Linked DNA regions of Homo sapiens. The protein of the gene in region 1 purifies or fractionates together with the protein of each later gene. This does not show direct contact. Each region holds a gene or a part of one and is shown in the gene's direction. Other genes may lie near its edges.

The links.
Region 2: the proteins of MYO9B (region 1) and PPM1G purify together in Homo sapiens (affinity purification with mass spectrometry; one large-scale study listed by BioGRID and IntAct). This does not show direct contact.
Region 3: the proteins of MYO9B (region 1) and ECD purify together in Homo sapiens (affinity purification with mass spectrometry; one large-scale study listed by BioGRID and IntAct). This does not show direct contact.
Region 4: the proteins of MYO9B (region 1) and VSIG4 purify together in Homo sapiens (co-immunoprecipitation; one large-scale study listed by IntAct). This does not show direct contact.
Region 5: the proteins of MYO9B (region 1) and DCAF8 purify together in Homo sapiens (affinity purification with mass spectrometry; one large-scale study listed by BioGRID and IntAct). This does not show direct contact.
Region 6: the proteins of MYO9B (region 1) and NAP1L4 purify together in Homo sapiens (affinity purification with mass spectrometry; one large-scale study listed by BioGRID and IntAct). This does not show direct contact.
Region 7: the proteins of MYO9B (region 1) and FSD2 purify together in Homo sapiens (co-immunoprecipitation; one large-scale study listed by IntAct). This does not show direct contact.

What each region holds. Positions count from the first base shown.
Region 1 is NC_000019.10:17,194,277-17,197,776, forward strand, and holds part of MYO9B (unconventional myosin-IXb), read left to right. Parts: intron 1-279; coding exon 280-1,197; intron 1,198-3,500. UniProt on the Homo sapiens protein: Myosins are actin-based motor molecules with ATPase activity. Unconventional myosins serve in intracellular movements. Binds actin with high affinity both in the absence and presence of ATP and its mechanochemical activity is inhibited by calcium ions.
Region 2 is NC_000002.12:27,383,146-27,385,591, reverse strand, and holds part of PPM1G (protein phosphatase 1G), read left to right. Parts: intron 1-503; coding exon 504-919; intron 920-1,499; coding exon 1,500-1,640; intron 1,641-1,991; coding exon 1,992-2,226; intron 2,227-2,446.
Region 3 is NC_000010.11:73,161,509-73,165,008, reverse strand, and holds part of ECD (protein ecdysoneless homolog), read left to right. Parts: intron 1-1,058; 5' UTR 1,059-1,071; coding exon 1,072-1,276; intron 1,277-3,500. UniProt on the Homo sapiens protein: Regulator of p53/TP53 stability and function. Inhibits MDM2-mediated degradation of p53/TP53 possibly by cooperating in part with TXNIP. May be involved transcriptional regulation. In vitro has intrinsic transactivation activity enhanced by EP300.
Region 4 is NC_000023.11:66,023,081-66,026,580, reverse strand, and holds part of VSIG4 (V-set and immunoglobulin domain-containing protein 4 isoform 1 precursor), read left to right. Parts: intron 1-1,451; coding exon 1,452-1,556; intron 1,557-3,500. UniProt on the Homo sapiens protein: Phagocytic receptor, strong negative regulator of T-cell proliferation and IL2 production. Potent inhibitor of the alternative complement pathway convertases.
Region 5 is NC_000001.11:160,224,550-160,228,049, reverse strand, and holds part of DCAF8 (DDB1- and CUL4-associated factor 8), read left to right. Parts: intron 1-2,386; coding exon 2,387-2,459; intron 2,460-2,930; coding exon 2,931-2,988; intron 2,989-3,500. UniProt on the Homo sapiens protein: May function as a substrate receptor for CUL4-DDB1 E3 ubiquitin-protein ligase complex.
Region 6 is NC_000011.10:2,968,330-2,971,829, reverse strand, and holds part of NAP1L4 (nucleosome assembly protein 1-like 4), read left to right. Parts: intron 1-295; coding exon 296-382; intron 383-1,895; coding exon 1,896-2,027; intron 2,028-3,500. UniProt on the Homo sapiens protein: Acts as a histone chaperone in nucleosome assembly.
Region 7 is NC_000015.10:82,796,070-82,799,569, reverse strand, and holds part of FSD2 (fibronectin type III and SPRY domain-containing protein 2), read left to right. Parts: intron 1-3,203; exon of another isoform or gene 3,204-3,320; intron 3,321-3,500.

The sequences.
Region 1 (3,500 bases):
AATAGAACCCACCCACCACAGCCCCAACAAGGGTCCTCTCCCCTAACAAGGCAGCCAGGCAGACGCAGGGCAGGGGTATCTGTGACACTGAGGGGGCACCACCCTCAGCCTCCTTTCCTGATCGAGGAGATTCCTGCTTTCCAGAAGCATCTCTCAGGGCCACTGGGCACAGGCGAAGCCCCGTCTGCAGCCCGCAGGCTGGGGGTCCCATCGGAACTCAGTGGGAGGTGGAGGGAGTGTTTGTTTCTGAACCAGCTGTCTGCTTTTTCCTCACTCCAGCTTCAGCCAGATGATCTCGGAGAAGCAGAAGGCAGAAGAGAAGGAGAGGGAAGCCCTGGAAGCCGCAAGAGCAGGTGCTGAGGAGGGCGGACAGGGTCAGGCGGCTGGAGGGCAGCAGGTAGCTGAGCAGGGGCCGGAGCCAGCGGAGGATGGCGGGCACCTGGCATCGGAGCCTGAGGTGCAGCCAAGTGACAGGTCCCCCCTAGAGCACTCCTCACCTGAGAAGGAGGCCCCAAGCCCAGAGAAGACTCTCCCACCCCAGAAAACCGTGGCGGCTGAAAGTCACGAGAAAGTCCCCAGCAGCCGGGAGAAGCGTGAGTCGCGTCGGCAAAGAGGGCTGGAGCACGTCAAGTTCCAGAACAAACACATCCAGTCCTGCAAGGAGGAGAGTGCCCTCAGAGAACCTTCCAGAAGGGTCACCCAGGAGCAAGGGGTGAGTCTCCTGGAAGACAAAAAGGAGAGCAGAGAAGATGAAACCCTTCTAGTCGTAGAGACGGAGGCTGAGAACACATCTCAAAAGCAGCCCACAGAGCAACCCCAGGCCATGGCAGTTGGCAAGGTCTCTGAAGAAACTGAGAAGACGCTGCCCAGTGGGAGCCCCAGGCCTGGCCAGTTGGAGCGGCCGACCAGCCTGGCCCTGGACAGCAGGGTCAGCCCACCGGCCCCTGGCAGCGCCCCCGAGACCCCCGAGGACAAGAGCAAACCATGTGGCAGCCCAAGGGTTCAGGAAAAGCCCGACAGCCCCGGAGGCTCCACGCAGATCCAGCGGTACCTGGACGCCGAGCGGCTGGCCAGCGCCGTGGAACTGTGGCGGGGCAAGAAGCTGGTGGCCGCCGCCAGCCCTAGTGCCATGCTCAGCCAGTCCCTGGACCTCAGCGACAGACACCGGGCCACAGGGGCCGCCCTCACGCCCACAGAGTAAGCCCCACACCCTCTTTTGTCTGAGCACCAGGGTCCAGGCCAGGTGGGCAAGGCCAGGGGCAGTGCCACACATCCTGGAAACACATGTGTAATCATGCCCAGTGGGTGTGCGGGAGGCCTGAGGGAGGAGGACGAGCAGGACATGCTAAAGACCAAGTGAAGACAAGGCAGCCAGCCAGGGCCCAGGCTGGGACCTGGAGCCTTGAGGGGTCCCCAGAAGGAGCTGTGCTCACACAGAAAGGCCCCGGCCTTGAGAGAGGTGGCTCCTCAGGTCAAGGTCCCTGCTGCCCAGAAATCTTGGGCCTTGGTTTCTAATTGGTGAACAGGACTAACTGCACTCCTCGGGGTTAAAGGAGCAGGGGCTTGCTCTGCCTGAGCCTTAGTAAGCCAAGTGTCAGTGACTTGGAATCTCCAGCTCCCTCTTCCAGAGGGCCTGCAGGACCAAAGGAAAGAAATCAGGGAGGAGACAGGCCTTCCCTGCAGCAGGCCTGCTCAGCCTCCCACTGCTCGTATTGGGGGCCAGATCATTCTCTGCGGTGGGGGCTGTCCTGTGTATCATAAGATGTTGAGCAGCATCCCTGGCCTCCACTTACCACATGCCAGGAGTATTATCGATAGATGATGGATGGAGGGAGGGAGGGAGAGAGAGAGAGAGGGAAGGATGTGTGGGTGGGTGGGTGGGTGGGTGGATGGATGGAAGATAGAGATGATGGAAGGATGGATGGAAGGAAGATAGAGATGATGGAGGGATGGATGGATGGAAAATGATAGAGGTGATGAATGGAAGACAGATATAGATGATGGATGGATGGAAGATACACATGATGGATGAAGGGATGGATAGATAGAAGACAGGTAGTAATGATGGATAGAGGCATGGATGGATGGATGATACAGATGATGGGGAGATGGATGGATAGAAGATGGGTAGAAATTAGGCTGGGCGCGATGGCTCATGCCTGTAATCCCAGCATTTTGGGAGGCCAAGAGTTTGAGAGGAGTTCGAGACCAGCCTGGCCAACATAGTGAAACCCTGTCTCTACTAAAAATACAAAAATTAGCTGGGCGTGGTGGCGCATGCTTGTAATCCCAGCTACTTGGGAGGCTGAGACAGGAGAATCGCTTGAACCTGGGAGGCAGAGGTTGCAGTGAGCCGAGATCAAGTCACTGCACTCCAGCCTGGATGACAGAGATGAGACTCCGTCTCAAAAAAAAAAAAAAAGTAGAGATTATGGATAGAAGGAAGATAGATGCCGACGATAGATGGATGGAAGGAAGATAGGTAGGTAGAGACAATGAATGGAGGGATGGAAGATAGGTAGAGATGATGGATGGCTGGGTGGGTGGATGGATGGATGGATGGACAGACAGAAGGATGGGTGGATGGCTGGAAGATAGAGATGGAGAGATGGAAGGAACATAGAGTTGATGGATGGAGGGATGGATAGATGATAGGTAGATTATGGATGGGAGGAAGATAGAGATGATGGAGGGACGGATGGGTAGAAGATAGGTAGAGCCGGGTTCGGGGGCTCACACCTATAATCCCAACACTTTGAGAGGCTGAGGCGGGTGGATCACCTGAGGTCAGGAGTTTGAGACCATCCTGGCCAACGTGGCGAAACCCCGTCTCTACTAAAAATACCAAAAATTAGCTGGATGTGTTGGCGCATGCCTCTAATCCCAGCTACTCGGGAGGCTGAGGCAGGAGAATCACTTGAACCTGGGAGGCAGAGGTTGCAGTGAGCCGAGATCACACCATTGCACTCCAGCCTGGGCAACAAGAGCAAAACTCCGTCTAAAAAAAAAAAAAAGATAGATAGAGATGACAGATGAAGAGATGGATGGAAGGCAGATAAAGAGGATGGATGGGTGGAAGATAGAGACAATGAGTCAATGAGTAGAAGGATGGATGGATGGATAGATAGATGATAGATAGATAGATAGATAGATAGATAGATAGATAGATAGATACATAGATAGATAGATGGGCAGGCAGGCAGGGTCTCTTGGGCTAAGGCAAGGTTTCCTACCCTCCACACTCAACATCTGGGGCTGGCTCACTCTCTGGGGTGGAGACCATTCTCTGTAGGGTATTGAGTAGCATCCCTGCCCTCCACTCACCAGAGGCCAGAAGTACCCACCCACTCCTTTCCCCCCACCCAAGTGGTGACAACCAAAACTGTCTCTAGACATTGCCAAGTGTCCCCTGGCAGGGGCAGAACTGCCCAAGTGAGAACCCAAGAACCACTAAGACAAGAAAATGCCACTGACTCACTCTAGTCAGTAAAAGCCATGTT
Region 2 (2,446 bases), on another chromosome or scaffold:
TGAAAAGGAGGGAGAGAATTATCTTCGTTGAGTGGCATCTGAGCTGTAAGCATTGTATATACATTATCTTTTGTCATTGTGATGGGGTCTTCCTGGTTCCTGCTAGTATTTATGTGCTTTTTTTTCCCCTCAAGACTGGAGCAGTTATTAGCCCCAATAGCCAATCATTAAGCCTAAATCCTAATTCACAGTAGCATTGTGGGCTTCCTGGATCCTCAGCCAGAATAGGGTTTTTACAACTTAACAATAAAAAATGAGACGTCAGAGGGGAAGTATAGTAACTAGTGTTGTTTTGATTAAGAAGGGGATGAAACACAAAAACCAAAAGAAGTCTGTGGAGGAGGAGGAGCTAGGGCATGTTCTTCTGAGACTTGAGCGAGAGGAACCTTGGGAGTGGGAGGTTGTGGGGAAGTTAGAGGCTGCAAGGGCTGTTGAGGTAGTGAGAGGGACGGATCCCATGAGGAGTCTGGCATGGGGGCTCTGATTTAGCCTCTTCCCTGCAGTGGACAATGAGGAGGCTGCACTGCTGCATGAAGAGGCTACCATGACTATTGAAGAGCTGCTGACACGCTACGGGCAGAACTGTCACAAGGGCCCTCCCCACAGCAAATCTGGAGGTGGGACAGGCGAGGAACCAGGGTCCCAGGGCCTCAATGGGGAGGCAGGACCTGAGGACTCAACTAGGGAAACTCCTTCACAAGAAAATGGCCCCACAGCCAAGGCCTACACAGGCTTTTCCTCCAACTCGGAACGTGGGACTGAGGCAGGCCAAGTTGGTGAGCCTGGCATTCCCACTGGTGAGGCTGGGCCTTCCTGCTCTTCAGCCTCTGACAAGCTGCCTCGAGTTGCTAAGTCCAAGTTCTTTGAGGACAGTGAGGATGAGTCAGATGAGGCGGAGGAAGAAGAGGAAGACAGTGAGGTAAGGGCCTGTGAGGGCAGGCAGATGCTGAAGTTGCAGAGAGGTCCTGTTTGGTTGCCGTCTGTAGTTTTCAACTCTCTTTCCTTCTCCTATTTTGACATCATCCCCCAAGACCCACTGTATTCTAAGCTTTAGTCTTGAATTCATTGAGCTCCATCATCACAGGTACCATTTGCCTTTTTACCTCTTCCTTTGTTGGTACTATAACAAGCAGATCTAGTTCTGGCTTTTCAGAGTCTGTCTCCTAGAGAGAGAACAAGGAGATAGTTGTTACCTTGGCTAGTTGACTGTTTTCTTCTCTGGAAAATTTATTTTCTGGCCACAGTGCCTGAAAGATATTTTTGGCTGGCAGCCCTTGCCTTGTCCTGGGCTTTTTGCTAGTGACTGCTAAGCCCAGTTCAGGATGTCAGTTGTACTCATGCTAGCCCTTTCCATCCCCCCAATTTTCATGACCATATACTTGTATCTTTCAGTGTTTTGAGGACCTGTGTTCAGTCAGGACCTCTTGATTCTGAGTATGAGCTGTGGGGAGGGAGGGGATCATCCCAGTCTCAGCAGTCTGGGATCCTCCCCCTGGCAGGAATGCAGCGAGGAAGAGGATGGCTACAGCAGTGAGGAGGCAGAGAATGAGGAAGATGAGGATGACACCGAGGAGGCTGAAGAGGACGATGAAGAAGAAGAAGAAGAGATGATGGTGCCAGGGATGGAAGGCAAAGAGGAGGTGTGTGGGGAAGGGGAGCAATGAGTCTTGAAAAGCCACAAGGCAGGTGTGAATCCCCTAATTTTGATTTTGAGACAGGGGATCCCCCTGATACTTTAGGATGGAAGTAATAGTCATGGGGATTTATTCTGCAAGGGGAATGAGATGGTAAGCCTTTGGGGTTGAATTATCTAAAAACAAGGGAGAGGGAGTGTGCTGCTGTCTCTAGAAAGATGAAATGTGTGCTTCTCCTGTTTGTTAAAGCTCTTTTGGGGGTCCCAGTGAAAGCAAGCATAGGTGAACGATCAGGAGCACATCAGTGAGGAACGCATGTTCAGAAGCCCCCATGATGCTCCTTTTCTTCCTCTTAAGCCTGGCTCTGACAGTGGTACAACAGCGGTGGTGGCCCTGATACGAGGGAAGCAGTTGATTGTAGCCAACGCAGGAGACTCTCGCTGTGTGGTATCTGAGGCTGGCAAAGCTTTAGACATGTCCTATGATCACAAACCAGAGGATGAAGTAGAACTAGCACGCATCAAGAATGCTGGTGGCAAGGTCACCATGGATGGGCGAGTCAACGGGGGCCTCAACCTCTCCAGAGCCATTGGTAAGGGCCAAGAAACTGGGAAAGACTTCTAGGGTCTTTCTCTCTGTCCCAGACTACCTAGTAGCAAACTTTAATCTTCCTAGTGCTTGTGCCTTTCAAAGCACTTTAATATCTACTACCTCTGTTCTTATATTTCTGTGAAATAACTAAGATGGGTAGAGGTATCATTATACATAGGTATCATTATACCCATCTTATGTAACATTTGAATGATGAAAAA
Region 3 (3,500 bases), on another chromosome or scaffold:
GTAGGTGTTAGTGCAGTGTTTCTCGAAATATATTACACATACCACTGCTAGTACAAGGGCAAACATTAAAAATTTCATTCTTCACTTCCAAAATAGGAAAAATATAAAAAGTAAAGATTTTATTCTTACATACTTACTAATTGGGGAATGTGATACTAGATTTCTATTCACTGTATTATATCAAGGTTTCCTTTTAACGTAATTTTAAAGATAAAGTTTTAAGTGTAAAGGGTCATTAAAAATAATATTAGGCCAGATGCCTATAACCCCAGCACTTTGGGAGACCAAGGTGGAAGAACTGCTTGAGCTCAGAAGTTCTAGGCCAGCCTGGGCAATATGGCAAAACCTTGCCTCTACTAAAAATACAAAAAAAGTTAGCTGGGCATGGTGGCATGCACCTGTGGTCCCAGCTACTTGGGAGGCTGAGGTGGGAGGATGGCTTGAGCCCAAGAGGTGGAGGTTGCAATGAGCTGTGATCATGCCGCTGCACTCCAGCCTGGGCAACAAGAGTGAAACTCCATCTCAAATAAATAAATAAAGTTTAAAAAAATTAAATAAATATTACTGTAGGTGGTGTATGGTTAAGGCCAAAACCATGGTGATGGTATGTGACTAAATTTTATTTTTTTATTTTTTATTTTTATTTATTTTTTTTTTTAGTTGGAGTCTTGCTCTGTCACCCAAGCTGGAGTGCAGTGGCATGATCTCGGCTCATTGCAACCTCTGCCTCCTAGGTTCAAGTGATTCTCCTGCTTTAGCCTCCCAAGTAGCTAGGATCACAGGTGCATGCCACCACACCCAGCTAATTTTTGTATTTTTAGTATTTTGTATTTTTAGTAGAGACGGGGTTTCACCATGTTGGCCAGGCTGGTCTCAAACTCCTGACCTCCAGTGATCTGCCTGTCTCGGCCTCCCAAAGTGATAGGATTACATGCATGAACCACTGTGCCCGGCCTAACTAAATTTTAGAAAACAGTGTTCATAGAACCATCTAAAAGAGTTCAGATGTTACTTCTGCATTGTTCTATGTGGTTTATATTTTGGAACTTTAAACATAGTTTTCAAAGAAGAATGGAAGAAACCATGAAGCTTGCTACGATGGAAGACACAGTGGAGTACTGCCTGTTCCTGATACCAGATGAGTCAAGGGACTCAGATAAACATAAAGAGATTCTTCAGAAGTACATTGAGAGAATAATCACTCGGTTTGCACCTATGCTGGTCCCCTACATCTGGCAGAATCAGCCTTTCAATCTTAAATATAAACCTGGGAAAGGTAAGGCTCTTTTACTTGTTTGGATTAGTGTGACTTTTAATGTTATCCTGACAACAGTGATGTGTAATAGTCCACGCTTCATTCAGTGTTGCCAGGAAGAGATTAATACACTAAACTTTTTAGATGAGTAATACTTGTCTATATTCAGTTAGCCTTAAAGCTTTTTTTTAAAAAAAATCATATTAATGAAAACTTTCTAAATTTGCCTTAGGAATTAGCATATACTAAACATTATTAAACTCATGGCTATTCTTTTGAACTTTAGTTACTACACTATGCCATAATGTATCTAAGTATCTATACTAAATAGTTTCAGGCATCTGGCTTTAATCATGGTTCCTTTTGCTGTTACTCAGGATTCCTTATTTTGGTGATGTGTTTGGTAGGCTGCCTTGTTTCATATAGCCATTTTGGTGAGGATCTGAGTGGCTCTGCCCAGCTTATAAAGATAAATAATTGGGCTTTATGACTAATATTTGCCACTTACAAGCATTTTGAGGTTTCTTCATTGCTTCCCTGTGTTGTTGGTGCTTGAGATCTGACCTCTGGCAAAATATGGCACTCTGTCCTGTTATGAGAAAAACCCAGGATTAAACTAGGAGGGAGCGGAGAGACCAAAGAATGACTCGGACAGGTCTATCTTGGCAAGTAGATGAGTTTATTAGGACTTACAGACAAGACACTCCTGGGCAGCATCAGGACAGCTCTAGAAATCCACCCCACCTCCCATATTTAAGTTGCTAGTAAGCTAATTTTTTGGCTCTTTGCCTACTGCGTATATGCAATGACACTGTTTTCCTTGGTATGTTCCCAGCTATGCCCTGCAATGTTTGGGTTCTCAGGACCTGCTCCTCTGCTAGGCATGATGGCTTTGGCTTGCCAGCTGGCCTTTGAAGTTTAAGCAGCAGACATATACCCTTAAGTAGTCTGGTGGGGAACTGGTCACATTACAGTTCTATCATTTCTTATAGTTTTATGAAAATAAATCATGGGTAGGTGACCAAGTCTCTCCTTACACAGTGACTTATGTGAGGTCTTATTTGGGATCAGGAGCCTGGCATCTTGTGATACCATCACAAGATATACCCCCCATGTATACATCACAAGTATACATCACTGTGATACTCTCAGTTTAGTGCGTATCTGTTATCTTTTGGCAACAATTGCTACATATCTTACTGTTAATTTTATTGAACTCTTATTCATTGAAATACATATGATATTTATTGGCAAGAACACTGTCACATTGGTGTAGCACATCTAAAACCAACCCTTTATCCATCCTCTAGAAAACCATTTTTACTGTTTTCTTATCTTGTTTAATGGCATTGCCATCCACCCAGTTATCCAAGCTAGTCAGTAATTCAAAATCATAATCAGTTCCTCACTTCACCATGTTCAGTCAGATGCTAAATCCTGAATGCTTCTAAAATATGACCCCTTCTCTACATCTATTTGGCTTCAGTGTAGACCCTCTTTATCTCTACATCTGGAAAACAACAACAGCCTCCTAACTTACCTCTCTGGTTCCTGTCTTTCTAGTTCCTAACACTGTTGCTGGTTATGTTTGTAAAACACAAATTTGATTGTGTCACTCTCCTGCTTAATATCCTTCAGTAGTTCCCATTGCTTCAAGATGAAATTTAAATCAAAGTCTAATATAGACAAAAATAGTTACTTTAATTGGAGTTCTCTAGTTGAAGAAACTTGAGATCTGGGGTGGGGAGAAGAAGAGTTGGTTGGGCTGTTCTTCTACCTATTGTTTGCCATGGCAGCTCTTGAGACACTCTGTAATGCACTTGTTTGACCTTCATTCTGTTAATGTGGGATATTAACTGTACATTGATTTTCGTGTGTTGAACCATCCTTGCATCCCAGGAATAAATCTCGCTTGGTCGTGGTGAATAATCTATTTAATGTGTTGTTGAATTCAGATTGCTGATATTTTGTTAAGGATTTCTGCATTGATACTCATCAGGGATATTGATCTACAGCTTTCTCATATTGTCTTTGTCTGGCTTTGGTATTAGGGTAATGCTGGCCTCAGAAGGAATTTGGGAATTCCCTCCCTTTTATTTTTTTGGAAGATTTTGAGGAGGATTGGTGTCAAATTCTTTAAATGTTTGGAAGAATTCCCCGGTGAAGCCAGCTTTTCTTTGTTAGGAGCTTTTGGATTATTGATTCAATCTCCTTACTAGTTATAGATCTGTTCAGATTTTTGTAT
Region 4 (3,500 bases), on another chromosome or scaffold:
TGTTTTATGTTCCACATTTGCATTGCCATCTTTGGCTTCAAGATTTCCATAGCTCCGTTCCTCTCCGAGAAGAACATCTACTGGGAGAAGAGAAGTTAGAAATTGCCTCATAGGGAGTTGGTTTGGAAAAATGAGAAAATAACCTTGGGCAAAGTTATTAGATGTTGGGTCTGCGCCCTATTTTCTCTACCAAGTTTTTTAGTACTTGACTCTCTTCAAAAGAGAATATTTCTTCGATTTGTACCAGCTTATAACTTGAGCTCTCTCAGTCCCAACAAGACACTCTGAGGACCACAAATACTGGATTCCTAGGACACGATATCTTAGAGTCTCATGAAAACAAGCCAGTTGCAGCAACAAATCCTAAGTACACTGAGGTTCCTTTCCTCACGCCTCTCTATCCCCCCTGACCTAGCATCTTAGATTCAGAATATTATAGCTAAAAGTGCTTTAGACATCATCCAATCTTTTCATTGAACTTATGGGGTAACTAAGGCCTAGTGACAGTCAAAGTTTTGTCTAAGGTCACTGTATTCATTTTTCCATGGCTGCTGTAAAAACTTACCCCAAACCTAGTATCTTAAAACAGCATAAATATATTATCTTCCACTTCTGGAAATAAGTCTGACACAATTATCACTGAGCTAAAATCAAAATGTCAGTCAGCAAGGCTATGTTCCCTTTGGAGGGTTTGGAGAAGAATTAATTTCCTTGTCTTTCTTTTCTGGCTTCTAGAAGCTACCCACGTTCTTTGGCTCATGGCCCCCTTCCTCCATTTTCAAAACTAACAATGTAGCATTCTCAAATCTCTGTTCCTTTTTACTATGTAAACTAACATACTGACAGGTTCCAGGAATTTGGATGTGAATATCTTTAGAGGACCATTATTCTGCCTACCATAGTCATACAGAAAGTAAATAACAGATCTAGGACTGGAAGCCAAGTCCAGTTGATTCTTTCAGCTTTTAGGCATAATGGGAATATGTGTCTCAAGTGGCTCAGTGGAAATATGTTTTGAGAAAGAAGGAAGCTGGGGACTTGACCAGAGCGTGTGATGGGAAGAATCTTTGTGGCTAGAAGTAACTGACCAGAATCTTAATAAGGTATGTAGCATTTTTGGTGAAGCTGGAAAGTCAGGATATTATTTTCTTTTTTCTAAGGGAAGGTGAAAACCTTCTGTCTTGGCCCTATAGAAAGCATAGACAACTAGCTCAAATGCCCAGGCCAATCAGCCCACCAGTGAGTCTGGAAGAACCTGTTTACACATGGCATCTCTTTCTCAAGTCTTTCTCATGGGACTGGAGTTTTTTCTCTCTGGCTAGCTAAGAAGGTTAGGAGAATATGGAAAATGAAAAAGAAAAAGGCCTGGCTTAGTCTAGGCTGTTTCTTAGAGTTTTTGTTTCTGGCCTTATTTTCAATCAAATACCACTTGATCTTGTTTTACCCTCTAGGAAAGAGCCTGCCTGTCTTTGCCATCATCCTCATCATCTCCTTGTGCTGTATGGTGGTTTTTACCATGGCCTATATCATGCTCTGTCGGAAGACATCCCAACAAGGTTAGTGATGAATATGAGAAGGTGGCTTTGGCTCATTTGTTCTTTCTGTCAGTATACTTGAGCCTAAATTCTGTATCAGGCATTGTGTTAGGCACTTCAAGAAGCTCCCAGCCTAGTTTGGGAGTTAAGGTTGGGGTGCAGGGAGGCAGATGTTCGAGCAAACAATGGCATAAGACTTACAGAACTAAATGCACTAGGCTTTGGTACTCAGTGAAGTACAGCCATCTTTCTAACGAGTCATCTTGTAATGATGCAAGAGAAGGAGAAGTCACAATCCCTGGCCTCAAGTTGCTCACAATTTATTTAGGAGATTCAAGGTAGAAACATGGAATTTATCAATGACAATACATAGCAATAGAGGCTATGAGCTCAAAAACTAGAGAAGACAATTAATGCTAAAGGGATCCAGAGGAGAAGAGAGTAATTTAAGGCTTGGGTAATTAGCAAGGGATTTCAGAAGGAAGAATATCTTAGACCACATTTTGGAGGATGAAAACAAGTTGTAAGGAGACAGTATTTCAGGAAGAGAGAACTACATCAGCATAGTTGTTAGGGCCTAAAAGACAACTGAGAGTGGGGTCATCAATAAAGAAAATTTCTGTAGATGGGCAACAGGGAAGTACAGTGGGAAATGAAAGCTTATTCCTGATTATAGAAGGCCTTAAATGCCAGGTTAAATAATTTGGACTTTCTTCACTAGGCCTTGCAAGGGCACTAAATTTACCAAATTTTTCAAGCATGGAAGTGGCATAATGACAGCACAGTTGTCAGAGCCATTTAAAAACTATGAACCAACCGAGGAGGAAAAAAATTGGGATGCTTGTTTCTAAAAGAAAAAAATACTAGCTGTCTCTCAATGCCCAGTGCACTAGTCATGTTGCCTAGCATCAATTTGTCTTATTCTCTGTAGTATCTCTTACTCCCAAATAGCCTGGTTACTACCATGGATCTGATGGATTTCCATCACCAGAAGGGAGCCTTGAGTATCTCCTTCTCCCAGGTTTCAATTATAAGCTCTGGCTTTTGCCAGTTAGCATGTTTATCACCATGAGGCTGAACTTGATAGCACATGACTACAAACCCCAGGGGCACTAAAATGAAAGCATTTGCATATAGCCTTGATGAGGCTGGGCATAAGCGGTAACCACATTAAATTGTTTCTCTCTCAAAAACCTTCCATGGCTTCTTATGGCCCAGGGGATAAAGGTCAAAATGTAGCATTCTATTCAAGGCTCTCTGTGATGTGGGTCTAGCCAATTTTCTCAACCCACCACTTCCTTATACCTAGTCTCATTTCCAAAAATTCCTCTTTCCTATCTCTGTATAAGGGAGACAGCCTCAGAGCATCAATTTAATTTAACATAATTACTGAGCACCTATTGTGTGACAGGTGCTGAGCATATTAAGATGAAAAAGACACGACCCTTGCGGTACAGGTGCTCATAGGCCAATGGGCGAGTAAGACACAGAAATGCAGGGCTCTACCATAAGGCAGAAGTCCTGTGGCTTCCCTTGTTTACTTTGTTGTCATTTAATGCTTGCATTTCCAGTTGCATCCCTGAAAAATTATAAGCACCTAGAGGGCAGTACAAAGAAATATCTGTCTTTGCACCAACCTAAGCCTTTGAGCCTGTACGGAATATAGGACACTCCTCCTCCACAGACACTAGGGGGCAATGGTAACCAATACCATGGTTTTTCCTGGGTATATAGTGGGGGTGAGTGCATTTGGGAATGTCTTGGGTCACGGCCATCAGCATCAGGCTAATCCAGTCCCTTCTTCCTGGTATGTGGCCTGACAGTCAAGTTTCCCACAAGGACTCTCTGGGGATCCTTGGGGGAGATTCCTGGGTAAAGAGCAAGTCCAGTTCTAGTGCCCTCCCCCAACCCATACCGAGAAACTGCTCCAGCCCAATATCCTGAGTCCAAGATGACAAAAAGGAT
Region 5 (3,500 bases), on another chromosome or scaffold:
GTGTGGTGGTATGCTCCTGTAGTCCCAACTACTTGGGAGGCAGAGGAGGATCTCTTGAGCCCAGGAGTTTGAGGCTACAGTGAGCTGTGATTACACCACTGCACTCCATCCTGGATGACAGAGTGAGACCCTGTCTCAAAAAAAATAACTAAAAGTAAAATATAAACTATCAAGGGCCTATCATATGTTCAGAAAGTGGTAGGAAAGTTTGTATTAATCTTTCTATGCTTACTGTCTATCACAGGGCTTGACAAACTGTAGTGCTTGTTTTTATAAATAAAGTTTTATTGGAACACAGCCATGGCCTTACTTTACATGTTGTTTATGACCACTTTCATGCTACAATGGCAGAATTCAATAGTTTTAATAGAGATTAGATGGTTTGCCAGTTTACCAGCTTAAAACATTTACTGTCTTGTCCTTTAAGAAAAAGTTTGCCAAACTCCGTTCTAGCATCATATGTAGAATATAGTAAGCTATTAATAAACACTTAGTTGGGGTGTAGTGGCTTATACCTGTAATCCCAGCACTTTGGGAGGCTGAGGCAGGAGAATCTTTTGAGGCCAGGAGTTTGAGACCAAGCTGGGCAGATGCTGTCTCCACCAAAAAATAAAAATATTAGCTCAGCATGGTGGTGTGTGCCTGTAGTCCCAGCTACGCGGCAGGTTGAGGCGGGAGGATCGTGTGAGCTGGGGATGTCAAGGCTTAAGTCATCAGTAACCTAACTGCCAAAGCAAACAAAGTACTTTTCAAGTCTTTTTCTCTACTCTTGACATTATTACTCCTTCCCTGAAGCACCTTCTCTCCTTGATGTCCAACCACTCCTCAGTGTTGTTCATGGGTGTGTCTTCCTTTCTCCACCCATTAAATGCTGATGTTCTCCAGTAGCTCAGTCTTCAGCTCTCATCTTACTCTATACCAGGGAATTTTAACTTGAAGTACAAATATTATGTGAACCTCCAGAAAGTATGCTTATGTGCATTTTTCTGGGGAGAAGGGACTAGAGTTTTCATTATATTCTGAAACAGGCCAGAGATTCTAAAGGGCGAAGGGAAAATCTTCTCTGTATTTTCCCTTGGAGATCTAATTCCATTACCAATGCTTTAACTACCACCTTTCACACGGATATATGACTTACATCTGTGTCTGCAGACCACACTTATTCTGAACTCTAGACTTACACCTACTTAACAAATGGATATAATTAACTGATGACTTCAGCCAGAGAAGTCTCAGTGGTGAGTTGAGAACCAAAACCAGATTAGGATGGACTGAGAAGTGAATAGGAAGTAAGAAAGTGGAAATATTGAATGTTGATTGTTCTTTTCAGTAGTGTAACTGTAAGGGGAAGGAGAAAAAAAGCAATAGTAGGAAAGGACAGTCAGCAGAAGGATTTTTAGAAAGTGGCCAGCTGGTGATGAGGAAGAGGTTGAGAAATTAGATAATCATCAAACAAGGTCCCTGGAAGGATGAAATGAAAAGCATTTTTCAAGAGATTGGCTCTGAGATTGGAGGAGACTGGGTGAGAACAGATACTGGATCTGTCTTGTTCCTCACTGTATTTCTAGCACCTAGCATAATATTTGACACATAATATGTGTGTCCTCATGAGTTTAAAGCTTGGATTAGAGAGAGGAAGGAAGGTGAAGGTGTAGTGTGCTTGATAAGAATGAGGAAAGGAGAGGGAGTCTTGAGGATATGGGTGGTAGTTTTTAATAATTATTGTGGGGTATGAGAGGGAGAACAGGCCAAATACAGTTTTAAGGAGGGATTACAGACCCATTGACTTACATTAAGCATGGTTTCTGCCCGTGAGTAACCTTTTTCGGTAGGTAATGTACATGTAAAAAGCTCCATACTAATGTTAGTTGTTTCAGTGAAAAGTAGCAGTATGTGATATAAAACTTGAGGAGAGAGATAAACCACTTCAAACTGACAGAATTGAGGATTGCCACTTAAAATGGGAAGTATGTGGATAAAGGATTTAAGGGTTTGCCTGGCCAACAGATGAAACTCTGTCTCTACTAAAAATACAAAAATTGGCCGGGCGTGGTGGTGTGTGCCCATAGTCCCAGCTATTTAGGAGGCTGAGGCAAGAGAATTGCTTGAACCCATGAGGCGGAGGTTGCAGTGAGCCGGGGTCATGCCACTGCACTACAGCCTGGGTGACAGAGCAGGACCCCATCTCAAACAAACAAAAGATTTAGGGTTTGGAAATGGATTGGAAAAGGGATGCCCTTTAAGGAAGAGCACAAACCAAAAGCTTGGTTTGGAAAATGTTGTTTATCTGCATCCAGCTGGCAGTTTCCTGCCACTACATCAAATTGCAGCTCTTCAAGGGTTTCGTTTGTACATTTTTACATTTTCATTGCTTTTCCAACTGTAGGATTTATGACCAGAGGAAAATTGATGAGAATGAGAACAATGGAGTACTCAAGAAGTTCTGTCCTCATCACCTGGTAAGATTCATGAAGGGCCAGTTGCTGCAGGCTTCCCTGACTCAACCCCAAGGCTGCACCTGAACTTGTTGGTATGGTGGGAAGAGCTTGGACTTTCAAGTCAGTCATCTGGATTTGAATCCTGGCTTTACCACTTACCAGCTTTGTGATCTTGGCAGTCACTTCACTTCTGATAGCCTCAGTTTTTTAATCGACAAAATAGAAATAAAAATAACTGCCTTGCACCTTGATGGTGAGGCCTAATGAGACAGTGTACATAAAATGGCTAGCACATGGATGACAACCAAAAGAAAGCCCCAAGATGCTACCCCCTGAGGTGGTCATGTTTCATCAGTTGTACTCTTGTCTCTGTCTGTCTTTCTCAAATCTCTGGGAGAAGATATAGGGGAGTTTGAAGGAAAAGCTGTTTCCTGAAGATGGTATAACAAATGGGGGGGTGGGGCATCAGTCAGTATCTGCTCCTTATTGCAGGTGAACAGTGAGTCCAAAGCAAACATCACCTGTCTTGTGTACAGCCACGACGGCACAGGTACGTGAGCAGGGCCCAGCTCCTAGGCTGGCATGCCCCCTCTGTCTAGGGAGCTGCTGAGCCAGTGAGGCATGTGCCCTCCAGTGCTCACCACTGTGCTATAGCTCCAAGTAGAGCAGCTGGGGAGTAACTGCTGATGGTGAGCACATAGCGGGAGGATACAGTAGATGACCCTTGGAGATGCCAGGTACCATTTGCAGAATGCTGCAGATGATATTTGGCAGGGCCTGTCCTGAAGCCCAGGTTGCTTGCCTGAGCAGGTTCTTATGCCTTTGACTCATTCCTGAGTTAATGGGTATGACCTTTTTGAGCATTCTGCTGCCCCTGGGTTGGCAGTGTGTTCTTAGTCTACCCTGTACAGTCGGACTTGCCTGGTGTTCCAAATAAGATGGGTGCTACACCTGGGTATTTGGAGGGGGCACTACTGGCAAGAAGCCCCACCCCAACCCCCACCTCCTGGTCCCTGCTTTTTTCAGCCTTTGCCTTCACTGCTATGTTCTTGTTCTTGGCAG
Region 6 (3,500 bases), on another chromosome or scaffold:
GCTGTATTGGTGCCCAAAGTGTGATGGCTTCTGCACCATCAGGAAGTTGAAAATCTTTAGCTGAACCATTGGAAATCGGGGACTGTCTTTATTTTACATCTTTAGGTGAAACATCCAGGTTTACCCAGGGAATCATTTAATATTTTTCTTTGAACCCTAAAATTTAGAATCTTAAAATAAGTTATAAAAATATCCAGTTTTCAAAGTCTTTTAGTAGACATTATTTATAAATTTAACTCTTGAGTTCCTAAGTAAGCTAATAACATAATTCTAATAAGGTCTCATTTTTATGTAGAGAAGAGAATTTATCACCGGCGATGTTGAACCAACAGATGCGGAATCGGAATGGCACAGTGAAAATGAAGAGGAAGAGAAATTGGCTGTAAGTCTTTAGAAACATGTGACTCATGTTCTGTTTTAATACTGTTAAAAATAAGCATTTTTTAATGATTTTTAATGACTAGTAAACTTATGTGCTTCTAACAGTAGGTGCTGCTGCATCATTAGGTTGGGTTTAGATTCCTTTCTGATATGGATCTAGCATCTGACACAGTACTGTCAGTTAATAGGAGTAAGATGTAGTGCCACCTCAGTTATCTGTGGACAGGAGCATATTGAAATAAGGGATCAGACCAACAAAGATTAAAACATCAGAGAAAGCAAAGATGAAGAAGAGATGCCCCTGTGTTCTCAGTCACTGGAAGATTGGGGGAGTTGTGAGGGGAGTGCCTTCCTGCTCAGTGGCATGGACTAGCTTGCCCCCTGAGAGGTGCTCCGCCAGTGGATTGGTTGCAGATGGTGGTTGTGGTGTGGCCATCAGTCACCTGCTCACAGCCTTTTTCTAGTGACTGGTCCCATTCCAGTGCTGTGAAAACTCCCAGTGTACCATGGATTAACTTTGTCAGCCTGATTTTATGTTTGGGAGACAAGTAACTTTTATCCTATAACTAACTTTTTGCAGTTTTTTTTTTGGGGGGGGGGTGGTATATGATGATTTTGGTAGCCATATGTGTTTTTGATGCTTTAAAAATATATAGAACCTGGCCTAATTGAAGCCATGGCTGTGGATTAATACAGTTGTGAATCAGTTTCTAACAGCTCAAGGGAAATCTGCCTTTGCTGATTTAAAAGGCCTTTCATTTCAAGATCATTTCATCATAACAATCCCGTTTGGCAAGGCATTCAGAATTTCCCATAGTTGCATCTGGTGTTGCGTTTCACCTCCCTTGGTCTACCTTTTCCCTGGGGCCTGACTCCCCTTCCTTTTGCCATGTGGCCTTTCTGGTCACTTTCTGATGCTTGCGTGGTGTCTGAGCTGGCATTTATAGCCACTTCCTTACAAGCTGGATAAGTTGCTGAGCACTTTCTTGCTGCAGATACTGCTGCGGCAATTTTTTTTTTTTTTATTTCAACTTAGCACCCCACAAATTTTAACAAGAGGTCAGATTATTAGTCCAAGTGAACTTCTTTATCCTTGCACTGGACTTTTTTTGCCCAGTGCTAGATGTTCTGCATATTTGCATTGCATCTCCTTAAGGTTGATGTACAGTCTTTGCATCTGCATTTGTGATGATGATTGTCTCAGGATGGCACCTCACAGAGCTAGCACTGGATGGCCTTTCCCAGCGTCGGTGGCACTTTGTCATCTCTTTAGTTTCTTCGCCTTTGATGTGAAATGGTACGGAATTCCGTGTGGATGTAATGACTTGAATGCTTTTTCCTCAGAAGCATCTGAAAAGTGTCGCGTGGCCCAGTGAGTGGTTTGGAGGTGCAGACTTAGAAAGCAAGGTGTTTGATGGGAGATAGTAGAGGATTCGGCAACGATATTCTACGTGAAGCCGCTGCATTGTTTGTAAACTTTTATTTTCGTTACCTATGTTGCATCTTTTTTTTAGGGAGACATGAAAAGTAAAGTAGTCGTCACAGAAAAAGCAGCGGCAACGGCTGAAGAGCCAGATCCCAAAGGAATTCCAGAGTTCTGGTTTACCATCTTCAGAAATGTGGACATGCTGAGTGAATTAGTCCAGGTAAGCACACTTCTGTCTTGTAGAGAGATTATGTGCTAGTCTTCTAACATTACTTATCTATGGCATTTTTTAAGCACTACACTGGGCATTGAAAGATTGTTCATAGTGGGCGGAAGGGCACTTTCTCTGACCAGGACCTCAGATGAGCAGTCCTGATCTCACAGTGAATGGTTTATTCACAGTGGGGCTTCCATGCTGTCTTTTGCAGTTCTTGGTGGAAAGCTGGGCGCTTCAGCCTGATCCAAAACTTTCAAATCAGTTCCTTTTACCTCTTGTAAAGCTCTGTTGTCTTGCCTGTGGGAAAGCCTATGAATAGATTCCAGAGCCCATCTCTGTCTTCCTGTGGTGTGAGTGTGCAGGAAAGGGTGAGGGCAGGAGACCAGAGCAGAATGAATTTTGAAGGGATGAGCTGTGTGTTTGTTTGTGTGTGTGTGTGTACACACACATCTCAGTGAATTTTTGAACAAGTTGCTAATATTTTCTGATCATTTCTCTTGAAAAAGTGTCTATTTTTTTTAAAAAAAGAGGCCAGGCATGGTGGCTCATGTCTGTAGTCCCAGCACTTTGGGAGGTCAAGGTAGGCAGATCGTTTGAGACCAGCCTGGGCAGCATCGCGAAATCCCATCTCTACAAAAAATAGAAAAGTTAGCTGGGCGTTGTGGTGTGCGCCTGTGGTCCCAGGTACTTGGGAGGCTGAGGCAGGAGGATCACCTGAGCCGAGGAGGTTGAGGCTGTGGTGAGCTGTGATCACGGTGCTGCACTCCATCCTGGTGGGTGACGAGACCCTGTCTCCAAAAAAAAAAAAAAAAAAAAACAACACAACAACAAAACCCAACCACCATTTCTGATTTTGTCTTGCCTTGACATTTCACTTTCTGTAGTGAAATGGTGAACAAATTAAAAGGTAACAAATTTGGTTTTCCCTGAAATGAGTTATAATAGAAGTTTCTAGAACAGAGAAACAAATCTTGCCTTAAGTCTCACTGACTGACTTGCCGTCAGTTTTTATTGCTCCAGCGTCCCCAGAAACAGCACGTCTGCATTCAGACTTGCTCAGGACAGCTGCAGGCTCTGCTTGTGTGGGCAGAGTGCTTCTCCCATCACAGAGCATAGGCACTGTGCGTTGCAAACTGCTACATTGTAATTTGCACAGGATTTTACAGCTACGGTTTTTAATGGTTTTCACAAATGTATCACATTGCTGCCTCTGCTACCTCCCTTGTTTAATGCTTGTCCTGTGTCCTAAGCCAAAACTTGAGAAAAGATGGAAAGAATGATGTATTTCTTATTCTCCTTCCAGACCAGAAAGCATCTAAAATAGAACAGCCTTGGTTTTTCCTGATCTGAGCTTCCTTTTCATATGAAAAGGTGGAATTTAAGAAGACTAGACCATACTTTTAAAAGAATGCCATGCACCAGAATTTCATTGGAAAAATTAAGTAATGTCTACCAGAGCCGTAGTCTCACCCTGTG
Region 7 (3,500 bases), on another chromosome or scaffold:
GCTGCTCAAGACAGCAGCTGCACCTCTGAGCCTCTGCCTCTGCATGGGGCACAGGTTAGAGCCAGAGACATGGATTTGGAGCCCTCAGAAAAGACGGGGACATAGAAGCTGTGAGACTGGATGAGATCACCTAGAGCAAGTGGAGAGTGGGAAGAGGGCCTAGAATGGAGGTTAAGGGGATGCCTGCATATAAAGAGCAGCCAAGGGGAGGAACTTGGCAGAGATTTCAGCAGTCAGTGGCCTAGGGGAAATCCCAGCTGAGCCGGGGGACACAGAAGGGTCAATAGGATTGAATGGCATGGAGCAGTCAGGAGAGCACCAGACAGGGTCCATGAATTTCCAAATTAGGCCATGAGAAAATGTTATATTAAAAGGGCAATCAAAAGTGGAGATAGGCCAGGCGCATTGGCTCACACCTGTAATCCCAACATTTTGGGAGACCAAGGCGGGAGGATTGCTTAAGCAGGAGTTTGAGACCAGCCTGGGCAACATAGTGAGACCGTGTCTCTACAAAAATTACAAAAATTAGCCAGGCGTGGTGGTGCATGCCTGTGATCCCATCTGCTCAGGAGGCTGAGGTGGGAGGATTGTTTGAGCCCAGAAGGTCAAGGCTGCAGTGAGCTGAGATTTCACCACTGTGCTCCAACCTGGGCAACAGAGCAAGACCCTGTCTCAAAAAAAAAAAAAAAAACAAAACAGTGGAGATAGTGGAAAGAAAACTTAATGCCTTTTTAAAAATATAGTTTGGGAAGTGGCTATTAAAAGGACAGTCTATCAGCAGAAGTGACAGTCTATCACTGCAGAAAGTTAAACAGAGCTGATAGGGGAAGCCGACGAACTTGTTGACTTCTGTTTTCTGTGTACAACTGTGGAACAAATAGGGAAGACAAACAGCTGGCTGCTAACTTTGATCACATAAATGGAAGTTAAGGAAAACTGGATCATAAAAGTGATGGATAAGGAAAAAACAGTGCTAAACCATATCTTAAAATATTTTGCTTATTTTTCTCAAAACATTATATATATATGTCATGTTAAAATAGTTTAATAATATTAGTTTTTTTAAAAAAAGACATTAGATTTACCACAATTTTTTAATGGGGGTAGGCATTAGGAACTGGATTGTGATGATGGCTGCACAATTTGGGGAATTTACTAAAAATCATTGAATTGTGCACTTAAAACATGAATTTTCTTCCTTTCGTTCTTTCTTCCTTTCTATCTTCTGACAGGGTCTTGCTCTGTCACCCAGGCTGGAGTGCAGTGGCAAGATAATAGCTCACTGCAGCCTCAATCTTCCAAGCTAAAGTGATCCTCCCACCTTAGCATCCCGAGTAGCTGGGACTGCAGGCACACACCACCACGCTGGGCTAGTTTTGTTTTTTGATTTTTAAATAGAGGTGAGGTTTCTTTTTGTTGCCCAGGCTGGTCTCGAACTCCTAAGCTCAAGTGGTCCTCCCACCTTTGCCTCCCAAAGTGCTTGGATAACGGGTGTCAGCCACTGTACCTGACCTGTAATATTTTTCTGTGCTTGGAAAGTCTTTTGTTGGTCATCTATGATACTTCTCTACAAAAATACAGATGTATAACTTGAGATGAAAGATTTTCTCTTGTTCTCCTGGGACCATACATCTCTGAATATTAAACTCTTTTTTTCTTTTGGATGAAGTTACCAATACAACTTTTAATCACATGTAAGCAAAATAACATAAACATATTACAAATTTTGGTAAATAATAATAATTATTATTGTTATTTTTGAGATGGAGTCTCGCTCTGTCGCCCAGGCTGGAGTGCAGTGGCGTGATCTTGGCTCACTGCAACCTCCGCCTCCCAGGTTCACGCCATTCTCCTGCCTCAGCCTCCCAAGTAGCTGGGACTACAGGCGCCCGCCACCACGCCCGGCTAATTTTTTGTATTTTTAGTAGAGATGGGGTTTCACCGTGTTAGCCAGGACGGTTTCGATCTCCTGACCTCATGATCTGCCCGCCTCGGCCTCCCAAAGTGTTGGGATTACAGGCGTGAGCCACCACGCCTGGCCAATAATTGTTAAATGAAAAATAAAATGGAAATGCATCTCTTAATGAGGTAGATGGAGCTTTTTTAAAAAAAGTTTATTTGTGTATCCATTGATGAAAATTACATATTTTAGACTGCAACAGGAATTAGGGTCAATTGTCTTTCCGCTTTTCATTTTGTTGATGTAAGAACAGAGCAACCTTGCTTAGCTACGTAATCAAACATTGATGGAAATGAAAGTGTTTTATTATAGCAATGTCACTCACATTTTTGAACTCTTTCTGAAATGTGTTTCAAAAAGTACATAGTGATCTATCATGAAAAATTATTTTTAATCATATATTAGCTGACAATTTGATTAGATCCTCCTTCAACTTTATTGAAAGCAAAGAACTGGAAACCACTTAGCTTGAAAACAAATTTTTTCTTATGCATTCATTAATGTCATTCACCCTCCACCATTGATAGCAATACTTCAAATTGTCCTTCCATTTAGTCCCCTGGAGGTGTTTTTTTTTTTTTTTTTTTTTAATTACCAAGCAATGAAATCTTACAGTGCAATGAAATATTCAGGATAAGTGAGAGGTATAGTTTTACTTTTGTAATAAAGAGAAAAAGGACTATTGTGAAAAAAGAATCTACATGAAGCCTCAAATGCTAGTTCCTTCCCAGGCAGAGCAGCTCTGGGAAAGATTAAATATAAAGTTGAGCATCTGGGAGCTGATCCTCCTGAAGCTATCTATACCATGTACCCCTTGGAAAGTCTTCGCATACAGATTCCATAGCCTGAAGAGTGATGGTGGAAATGCCACCCTTTGATGGAGTCTGGAGAGGGAAAGGGGAGAAAGAGAGAATAGCAGCTAGCAGAGAAAGCTGGGTGGAAAGTTTATTTTTAGTCTGGGACAATGAACTAGTCATCTATTGTGGCATAACAAATTATTTCAAAACTTGACAGCTTAAAACAACAAATATTTATTCTCTTGAATCGTTTCTGAGGGTCAAGAACCTGAGAACAGTTCGTCTGGGTGATTGTGGCTCAGAGTCTCTCATGAGGCCTGGTGACCACTTTCCGTTGGTTCTCCTAATACGTCTTATGCCCGCAGCAATGCTGCCAACTTCTTCAGCTCACCTGCCAGCCAACCTTGGTTCACCTGTGTTTCCATATGTTTTTCTTGCTTTTACAGCCACTGGGGACCAGCTCTGGCCAGGACAATTCCGTTTGCCATGATGTGGGTTGAAATCACAACTTCTCCCGGGCGCAGTGGCTCACGCCTCTAATCCCAGCACTTTGGGAGGCCAAGGTGGGTGGATCACAAAGTCAGGAGTTTGAGACCAGCCTGGACAACATGGTGAAACCCCGTCTCTACTAAAAAATACAAAAATTAGCTGGATGTGGTTGCGGATGCCTGTAATCCCAGCTACTTGGGAGGCTGAGTCAGGAGAATCACTTGAAACCAGAAGGCGGTGGTTGAGTGAGCAGA